2 separate regions of the Homo sapiens genome follow, and region 2 is reported to be linked to region 1. Evidence: microRNA targets listed by miRTarBase, many of them from high-throughput screens and not tested one by one. Region 1 holds a microRNA gene; the other region holds the end of a gene's coding sequence.
Evidence for each region. Region 1 holds the annotated microRNA hsa-miR-6882-3p (UGCUGCCUCUCCUCUUGCCUGCAG, at 2,725-2,748, shown strand). A microRNA usually pairs through its seed, bases 2 to 8, with sites in the 3' UTR of a target mRNA and lowers its output. Matches are read on the target gene's strand: a 7mer-m8 pairs with bases 2 to 8, a 7mer-A1 pairs with bases 2 to 7 and ends in A, and an 8mer does both.

Region 2: miRTarBase lists RPL28 as a target of hsa-miR-6882-3p. Seed matches in the 3' UTR shown: 7mer-A1 at 799-805.

The regions. Positions count from the first base shown.
Region 1 is chr15:74,839,136-74,843,389 of GRCh38, reverse strand. MIR6882 (microRNA 6882) reads left to right here and starts at 2,683; the gene lies at 2,683-2,748. ULK3 (unc-51 like kinase 3) reads left to right here and starts at 234. Exons shown (of 16, transcript NM_001099436.4): 1 at 234-386; 2 at 970-1,110; 3 at 1,195-1,315; 4 at 1,881-1,985; 5 at 2,749-2,892; 6 at 3,074-3,156; 7 at 3,677-3,832; 8 at 4,017-4,122. The coding sequence starts at 285. RefSeq lists silencers at 1-472, 3,717-3,864 and enhancers at 1-646, 715-1,240.
Region 2 is chr19:55,387,746-55,391,999 of GRCh38, reverse strand. It overlaps RPL28 (ribosomal protein L28), which reads right to left. Exons shown (of 5, transcript NM_000991.5): 4 at 3,952-4,070; 5 at 1-3,757. The coding sequence ends at 3,668. MIR6805 (microRNA 6805) reads right to left here and starts at 3,819; the gene lies at 3,758-3,819.

The DNA of each region.
Region 1 (4,254 bases):
CGGAGACCACGCCGGCCGTCCTCCGTTGTTAACTTCTAGGCTCGCGGGGCCTCCGTATCCCCACGTGGGCCCTGCAGGAACTGGCGGGGCGCGTGACCCGGCGAGGCCCAGAGACAGGGGAGGGGCGCCGGGAGCCGGGCGGATCCGCGTCCCCGATGCGCGCTGCATTTCCGGCGGGCGGCGCTGGGGGCAGCGTGGAGCCACCCAGTGCTCGGCCCGCCCCGCAACCCGCCGGAACCGCCGCCCGCAGCGAGGAAGCGCCCGCGCGGGCGCAGGCGGCCGGAATGGCGGGGCCCGGCTGGGGTCCCCCGCGCCTGGACGGCTTCATCCTCACCGAGCGCCTGGGCAGCGGCACGTACGCCACGGTGTACAAGGCCTACGCCAAGGTGGGTGCCGGCCGATGGCCCCGTGCCCGCCCGAGCTAGCTCGGCTGGTGCCGGCCGGGGAGACTCTGAGAGGTTAGCGACAGTGTGGGAATAGTTAGGGGCGGGAGGCCGGCCTCGCCCCAGCTGACCCTCGGCGGAGGTTGGAGCCGACTGCCACGCTTAGGTCTTAAAGAGCGCACCTGCACCCACCTGCAGGGTCAGTGGCTGAAGAACAGGCTCAAAACAGGTTACCTGGTGGGCTGGGAGGAGTCTGGGACTGGAGCCAGTTGGGAGGCAGAGTGGGCGGTTCTAGAACCCTGAGTGACATGCCTCTGCCGGGAGCACTCCAGAATGCAAAGAAATGGATCAGCTAGCCGAGGGTTGGAGAAGACCAGGCTGAGGCTGTGTCGGGAAGCCAGGATTCCAGAATCAGCATTCCTCACTGGCCTCACAAGGGAAAGCTGGGAAGCCCGGTGCTGGTGTGCAGTAGGTAGACCCGGGGAGGGGCGGGGTGGGGGAACAGAGGGAACCAGATAGAGCCTTTCCAGTCAGACAAGGGTCCTGGCCCCCTCAAGGCAGAGTCCCCAAATCTCCTGTCTCGCAGAAGGACACTCGTGAAGTGGTAGCCATAAAGTGTGTAGCCAAGAAAAGTCTGAACAAGGCATCGGTGGAGAACCTCCTCACGGAGATTGAGATCCTCAAGGGCATTCGACATCCCCACATTGTGCAGCTGAAAGACTTTCAGGTGTGAGCCTGGGGCGGGGCCGCTGCCAAAGGGAGCTGGAGAAGGGACACTCTCTTCAGGCCGCCTCTCTGCCTCTAAACACAGTGGGACAGTGACAATATCTACCTCATCATGGAGTTTTGCGCAGGGGGCGACCTGTCTCGCTTCATCCATACCCGCAGGATTCTGCCTGAGAAGGTGGCGCGTGTCTTCATGCAGCAATTAGGTAAAGGCCTGTGACACCAGCCTGACACTCTGTCCCTTGTTCTCTGCCCCCCACCATCCCACCCCTCCCCCAGGCTTAGAGCCTTGGCACGCATTGCAGCTGCCTCCTGCACAGCCTGAAATTTTATGGTCCTGTTTATCTCATACACTCAACCCTTGCTCAAGGACGCTGTGGGAGAGATGAGGGGGTAACCCCTCTGTGGGGTGTTCAGGCTTCCATACATAGAACATAATATAAGGACCTTGTAGAACATTCCAGAGTCCTGTAGGTAGGACTCAAGTGCTGTGCCAAGGAAAAGAGCAGGATCTCAAGGGCTGGGGCATCCAGAGAAGCTTCTGAGAGGTGGGGAGACTTGTGAAGGGGCAGAGGGAAGGAGGGTGGGCACTCGGGTGGGGTGGCAAACTCCTAGAAGTGGTGTGATCTTGGTGCTTATATGGAAAACATTAGACCAGCCAGGCAGGAACTGGGGTTGTGCAGGCTTGAGGAGGCAGATGTGAGCCGGGGAGGCGAGAGGCAGGCGGGAATGGGCTCTGAACTGTCTCTCTTCGTGGGTCCTGCTCCTCAGCTAGCGCCCTGCAATTCCTGCATGAACGGAATATCTCTCACCTGGATCTGAAGCCACAGAACATTCTACTGAGCTCCTTGGAGAAGCCCCACCTAAAACTGGCAGGTCTGTGTCTGAAACAGCAGGGATGAGGTTTGGAGAGTGCAGAGGCCTCCCTCTGCCTGGGCTCACTCAGCAGCCCTGGTTCTTATGGAGCCCTCTATAGAGTCCTCAAAGAGTGACAGGCCGTGAAGTCTGGGGTTGGGCCCTGTCATCAAAAGGTGGAAGCTTTCTCAGGCTACCCATGCTCAAGTCCAGCAGCATAATGGGTGGAGTTAGGGCTCAGTCTGTGGCCAGAGTTGGGACTCACTGTGTGTCCAGGTTTAGGGGTCAATCTGGGAACAGTGCCAGGGTTCAGCGTGTGACAAGCATCAGGGATCCCTCTGTGGGCAGGGACAGGACTTGGTCTGTCATCAGAATTGGGGCTCAAGTCTGTGACTCCATCTGTGGCCACATAGGAGGGGTGTGGTGGGGGAGTAGGAGGTGGTGACCCTTGATAAGATTTGGATAATTGACACTGGAGGCCAGAGACTGTGATAGAACCTAAGCCTGGGGGGACAGTGAGAGGGTGGGGGCTTATGCAGGTAGCTGGTGTGATCAGGTGGGCTTCCTAGGAAAAGGTGCCCAAGGGAGCTGGGAAGGATGGGTAGGTTTTATACCCCAGAGGCAGATATAGGAGGGTGTTCCAGCCTAATGATGAGCAGAGGCTTGGAAATAGGGTTGATCCTGGCGGGTCTGGAGGGTGGAGAGGAGCCTGGGGTGAGGCTTTACAAGTCAGGAGCTGAAGCAGCTGGAATTCAAGCCCTGCTGCCTCTCCTCTTGCCTGCAGACTTTGGTTTCGCACAACACATGTCCCCGTGGGATGAGAAGCACGTGCTCCGTGGCTCCCCCCTCTACATGGCCCCCGAGATGGTGTGCCAGCGGCAGTATGACGCCCGCGTGGACCTCTGGTCCATGGGGGTCATCCTGTATGGTGAGACCTCTTTTCCCTGCTTCTCACCCTGAGGCCTACAGTTTCCTCAGGCAAGGCCTCTCTGGGCCACTTCTGAAGGGTTCTGATGAAAACTGACTGCTGGCCCAGGGCCCCTGCTGAGGGGCGTCAGGCCAGGCTTGACCCATTCCCTCCCAGCCTCCGCTCTGCCTCCCTTCCACAGAAGCCCTCTTCGGGCAGCCCCCCTTTGCCTCCAGGTCGTTCTCGGAGCTGGAAGAGAAGATCCGTAGCAACCGGGTCATCGAGGTGTGTCTAGCAGGGCCTTAGCGACCACTGGGGGGCAGAGGGAGTCAGGGCCCTGAGGGTTTAGACCTCGTTCTGACCTGCAGAGACTGGAGTATGGGCTCCAGGCTGCCTTTGTGGTGGAGGGGCAGGTTCTAGGCTGGAAGTCGAGGTGCCAGGCTGTCCCAGGGCCTCAGGTCAGCCCACAGCTGGCAGCACAGTGCCCATTTTGCAGGCCCTTGTGGGGAGAATGCAAAGCAGAGCCAGGCCCAGCCTTCCTAGGAGCATAGTCCAGGGAGGGAAATAAGGACCCAGAAACACGATTCTAGCTCAGCTCAGGGCTCCAGCGAGGGTGCACCGGGAGCCCAGGGATGGAGGCCTCGCTCCCCGCTGGCTCCATCATCCTGACCCATCCTGTTCCTCCTCGGTCTCAGATTCCCCACCTGTCCAACGCGTACCTCTGGGGTTCCTCGCAGACCCCTGGGCTAGGGGTAGGGGTGGAGGAGCCCAGTGTGATCTGTCCCTGCCGTTCCCTTCCCTGCAGCTCCCCTTGCGGCCCCTGCTCTCCCGAGACTGCCGGGACCTACTGCAGCGGCTCCTGGAGCGGGACCCCAGCCGTCGCATCTCCTTCCAGGACTTTTTTGCGCACCCCTGGGTGGACCTGGAGCACATGCCCAGTGGGGAGAGTCTGGGGCGAGCAGTGAGCAGACGGCTGGGGCTGGGGTGGGCTGAGGGTGGGCTGGAGGTCTCCTTGCCCCCGTTGGTGGTGAATTGGTGACTCACCCAACAGAGACAGAGGGCGGGCTCAGGGGAGCTGATCTCCCATCTTGGTGAGTGTGGGAGGGTAGGGAGGTGGACCTGACCCCTGATCTGCCCATCCCCAGACCGCCCTGGTGGTGCAGGCTGTGAAGAAAGACCAGGAGGGGGATTCAGCAGCTGCCTTATCACTCTACTGCAAGGCTCTGGACTTCTTTGTACCTGCCCTGCACTGTGAGTCCCAGGCCATGCCTGAAGCCCGTGGGTGCAGCAGGGATGGGAGTCATCTGTGGCTGCAGTAGGTGGATTCCAGAAGTTCTCTATCTAGAATTTTGTAGGCGATAAAGCAGAGCGTAAACCTGGAAT
Region 2 (4,254 bases), not on the chromosome of region 1:
GGGCTGGAAATGCAGCTGAGGACAGAATGATATTCACAAACACGGGCAGGAGGCTGGGAAAGCTCACAGCCCCACAGGACGGCGGGGCAGACCTGGAGCCACCAGGCATTACTGCACATGGATCTGGCATGTCTTCCAGGTGCTTGGGAAACACGAGCATTAGTTTGTGTACAAATTAGTCATAGGCATGTGAAGACATCTGTGATCATGAGTCCATCTGATCAAAATATTTATAAAAAGTCATTAATTTATTCCTACAATCAGGATTTGTGGGCACAGTCAAGCAGGTTTTGCACATTTAATCTTCTCATCAACCCTGAGTAGTAGGGTCTATCGACACGCATGTTACAGATGAGGGTACGAAGACACAGAGAGGTTGAGGAACTTGCCCAAGGTTGCACAGCCACCGAGCAGCAGAGCCCTGACCCAGTAGATGCCAGCATGTCCTGTGAACAGAGGATGCCTCAGTCCCGAGTCTCTGCTGCTGTGGGGAGTCTGGAGTCCCCAGCGCTCTGCACAACTTTGGGCTTGGCAGCCTTCCAGGGTGCGCCCTACGCTCACTCACCATGCAGCTACTGGACTAAGAGCTGGAGAGACAGCAGTGAACACTGAGACACCTGCCTTATGCAGGGCTGTGAAAGGCACTCAAAATGGCCTTTTACATATGGGAAACTGAGGCACGGTGCTACTAAACGAGCTGCCCAAGTCCCCACAGCTGGGCATAACTGGCAGAGCTGGGACTGGAACCCAGGCAGTTTGATTCCTGGCTTCCGTGAACCATTAGCCCTGAGCTGGGAATGCTGCCGGGCATCACTCTTGGGGATAGGATGACCTGGGGGAGGTTCTTTCAGCACTCTGGATGTGTCCCCACTGCCTGGGCCTGGTTTCTGATGAGGGCAGCTACTAACTTTATCAGGGACCTTCTGTATGTGACAAGACGCTTTTCTTTTGTTCTCCCAATTTTGTCTTTGGCTTTCAGCATTTTTACTATGGTGAGCCTGCCTGTTTTCTTAATATCATGTTTTTGGTTTAACTGGTTTTCCAATTTCCAGGCCAACAGACATGATTTGTGTGAATAAAGCTGGAATAGATGGCCCCATCCAACATCTCTCTCTCCAAGATGAGGTCTAGAGGAGGGAAATGGTGTCTCCACGTTTGCTCAGCACACTGAGGACTCCAAACTCTGTGGGGCTGAGACCATCTCCCTCCCTCCAGCCCTCTCCTGGTTCCTCCACCCCAACCCACCGATAGCATTCAGATACCAGACGTGGCCTCCCCAGCCCAGCCACACAGACAGGCTGGCCACCCGCAGGAACAGAGGCCCACTAAGCTGGGCTGTGTTACGGATGAGACCAGGGGAGGCCACACAGCAGGGAGGATTCAGATAGGGATGGAGAAAGCCAGCAGGACTCCACAGGGGGTGGGGCCTAGAGGCACAAGCCTCCAGGGCAGGCAAGGAGGTGGTTAAGGACAAGGCCTTCTGAGCAGCAGCAGCCACATCAGAAAGCCTCGAGCGCCTGTAATGCCAGCACTTTGGGAGGCTGAGGCAGGTGGGTAATTTGAAGTCAGGAGTTCCAAACCAGCCTGGGCAAAATGGTGAAACCCCATCTCTGCTAAAAATACAATACTGAGCTGGGTGTGGTGACACCCACCTGTAATCCCAGCTACTCGGGAGGCTGAGGCAGGAGAATCGCTTGAACCCAGGAGGTGGAGGCTGCAGTGAGCCAAGATCGCGCCATTGCACTCGCCAGCCTGGGCAACAGAGCGAGACTCCATCTCCAGAAAGTCTCCAGTGAGCAAACTCTCAGGACCGGTGGGCTTTATACATTCAATATGCACCATTCATCAAGCATCTCATTATATGCTGGTGTGCTAGACAAACCCCTTGCCCACCAGCACAAGACAAACATGAGACAGATAAACCTGCCAGCTTGTGGGCTGCAAATCAGTGCTGTGGAGGACAACTGAAGCAGGTGCCAGGGGAGAGGCCTCACGAGAAGGGGCCATCTACTAACGTGAGCAGTGAGCTCTCCTTATGAAGGCGGAGTCCCAGCGCAGTGAGGCCAGCCAGAGATGGGCCTGAGTGGGACTGGGACAGTGGGGGCTCCTGAGCAGGTACGAAGTCACCAGCGGAGTGAGGCCAGCTGGAGGTGGGCCTGAGTGGGATTGGGACAGTGCGGGGGGTCCTGAGCAGGTACCAAGTCACCCAACTCAGTTTTAAGGCAACACCTCTCAATCTGAGCTAATAGACCCAACTAAGGGAAGGACAAAGGAAATGGTAATTCACAGCAGACAGGGGCTGGCAAGTGGTCAGATCTGCTCTCCTTCGAGCTGGGCAAGACTGGAGCAGACAGGACTGAGGTCGGAAGGGCAGTGGTCTGCCTCAAAACGCAGGGCTCCCAGCCCCGTACGACCCCAACCAATGGCAAGTCGAGGCCCTGACAGTCCCCTTACTCTCAGTCAGAGCCGGGGGTGGTCTCAGACAGGGAGCAGAGTCCTTCTTTGAATCGGGTACCCCAGGATGGCAGGAACCAGGGGTGCCATGGATGCTGGATCCTTGGTCCCTGGCAGTGGCTGACAGAGTTAGGTGCCCAGGAAACATGTGAGGATCAACAGCAGGACTCTTTCCCCATCCAGGCCTCACTGTGTGTCATGGTGTCTTCCAGGCTGGAGTGTAGTGGTGGGGCTCATGGGCTCACTGCAGCCTCATACTCTTGGCTCAAGTGCTCCGCTCACCTCAGCCTCTACTCAACCTCTGAGGAGCTGGGACCACAGGCGGTGCACCACCACACCCAGCTAATTTTATTTTAGAGACGGTGTCTCATTATGTTGCCTAGGATGGTCTCAAACTCCTGGCCTCACAAGCTGTAATAAACACTAGGGAGCAAACAGGCCAAAGGAAACAAGAGGGCTGGGCAATCAGGAAAGCTTGGGTGACAGGGTGGCCCAGGAGCGGCCACTGAGATGAGACCTAAGTGACAAGAGCCAGCTCAAAGAGACAGGGGAGGGATGGGGACACCTGGAGGACGGGAGTAGGGGGACAATGCTAAGGCTGCTCAATGCCTGCTGGCTGTACCCTGGGGCTGCCATCTCCCTTACAGTTATAAGCCACCACCCACCAAGTTGCCCATCTCAGAGATGAGGTTGCATCAAGTAAAGCCCATCCCCTCCAAATGTGGCTGCACCCACTCCCTGGATGCAAAAGTCATCTCATCTTCCTCCCGTGATGTCTGTCGTCCCCCAGGTCTTGGGAACACCCCAAGTCCCCAAACCGTGCTACAGCACCAGGGCCCAGGGCCCAGCCCTCAGCCTGCACCCTTCTGGGCTAGAAAAGGCCTTTCTTCTTCTGAATGGAAGCCACTGCCCCAGCTGGGATTCTTCAGGCCACCTCACAATGGGACAGTAGGTCTCAATCACAAGTCAGCAAACTTTTTCTGTGAAGACAGTGACCCTTGCCCTCACCAGGGACAAGGCAGCTACCCCACCCCTCCTGCATGGCCAGCCATTGACATCACCTCCAGATGGACAAGGTGACATGCAGAGTTTTGATGACATGGCCTGAATGACAACACACAGGGCCAGAGCTCCCCAGAGCGTTTCAAAAAGGGAGGCCCAGTCGAGGCAGGTGAGAAAGCCAGCTGACTTTATTGCTCTGGGGGCAGGGGGCTCAGGAGCTCTTGGTGGGGCGGGTCCGCTTCCTCTTCACCATCACAGGCTTCTGGCTGCGCAGGATGGCGCTGGCCCTGCGGATGGCTGCCTGGGGGCGGGGGAGCAGAGCAAGGCTCAGCCCATACACTCCACAAGCCGCCCCCTAGGCCAATGCTGGGTGTGGGGAGTAGGCTGAAAGCAAGAATCCATCCCTCTCCAGCCCATATTGCAACCAGTAGTGGGAGGCCCTTCCCCACAGCACTGGCCAGTCTCCCCAAGCCTGATCCCCAAACCCCAGCTCACCATGCGCAGGTCGGGGCGGTACTTGTTCTTGCGGATCATGTGTCTGATGCTGCTGAGCGTGGCGCGAGCATTCTTGTTGATGGTGGTCCGCACATAGGAGGTGGCAGGCTTCCGCTGGCCTGGTTGGGGGTCAGGGAGGTCCTGGGGTCAGTCCACCTAACCTGCACCTTTAGCACACCTCGCAGGTGTGGACAGTCTCACATTGAGAAGCTGAGCAGCGTGGGCCCGTGGCGGGTGCCTGGGCAGGCCAGCAGGTAGCTGTTTTCCCACCTGTCCATTTCACAGAGGCTCACTCGTCATCAC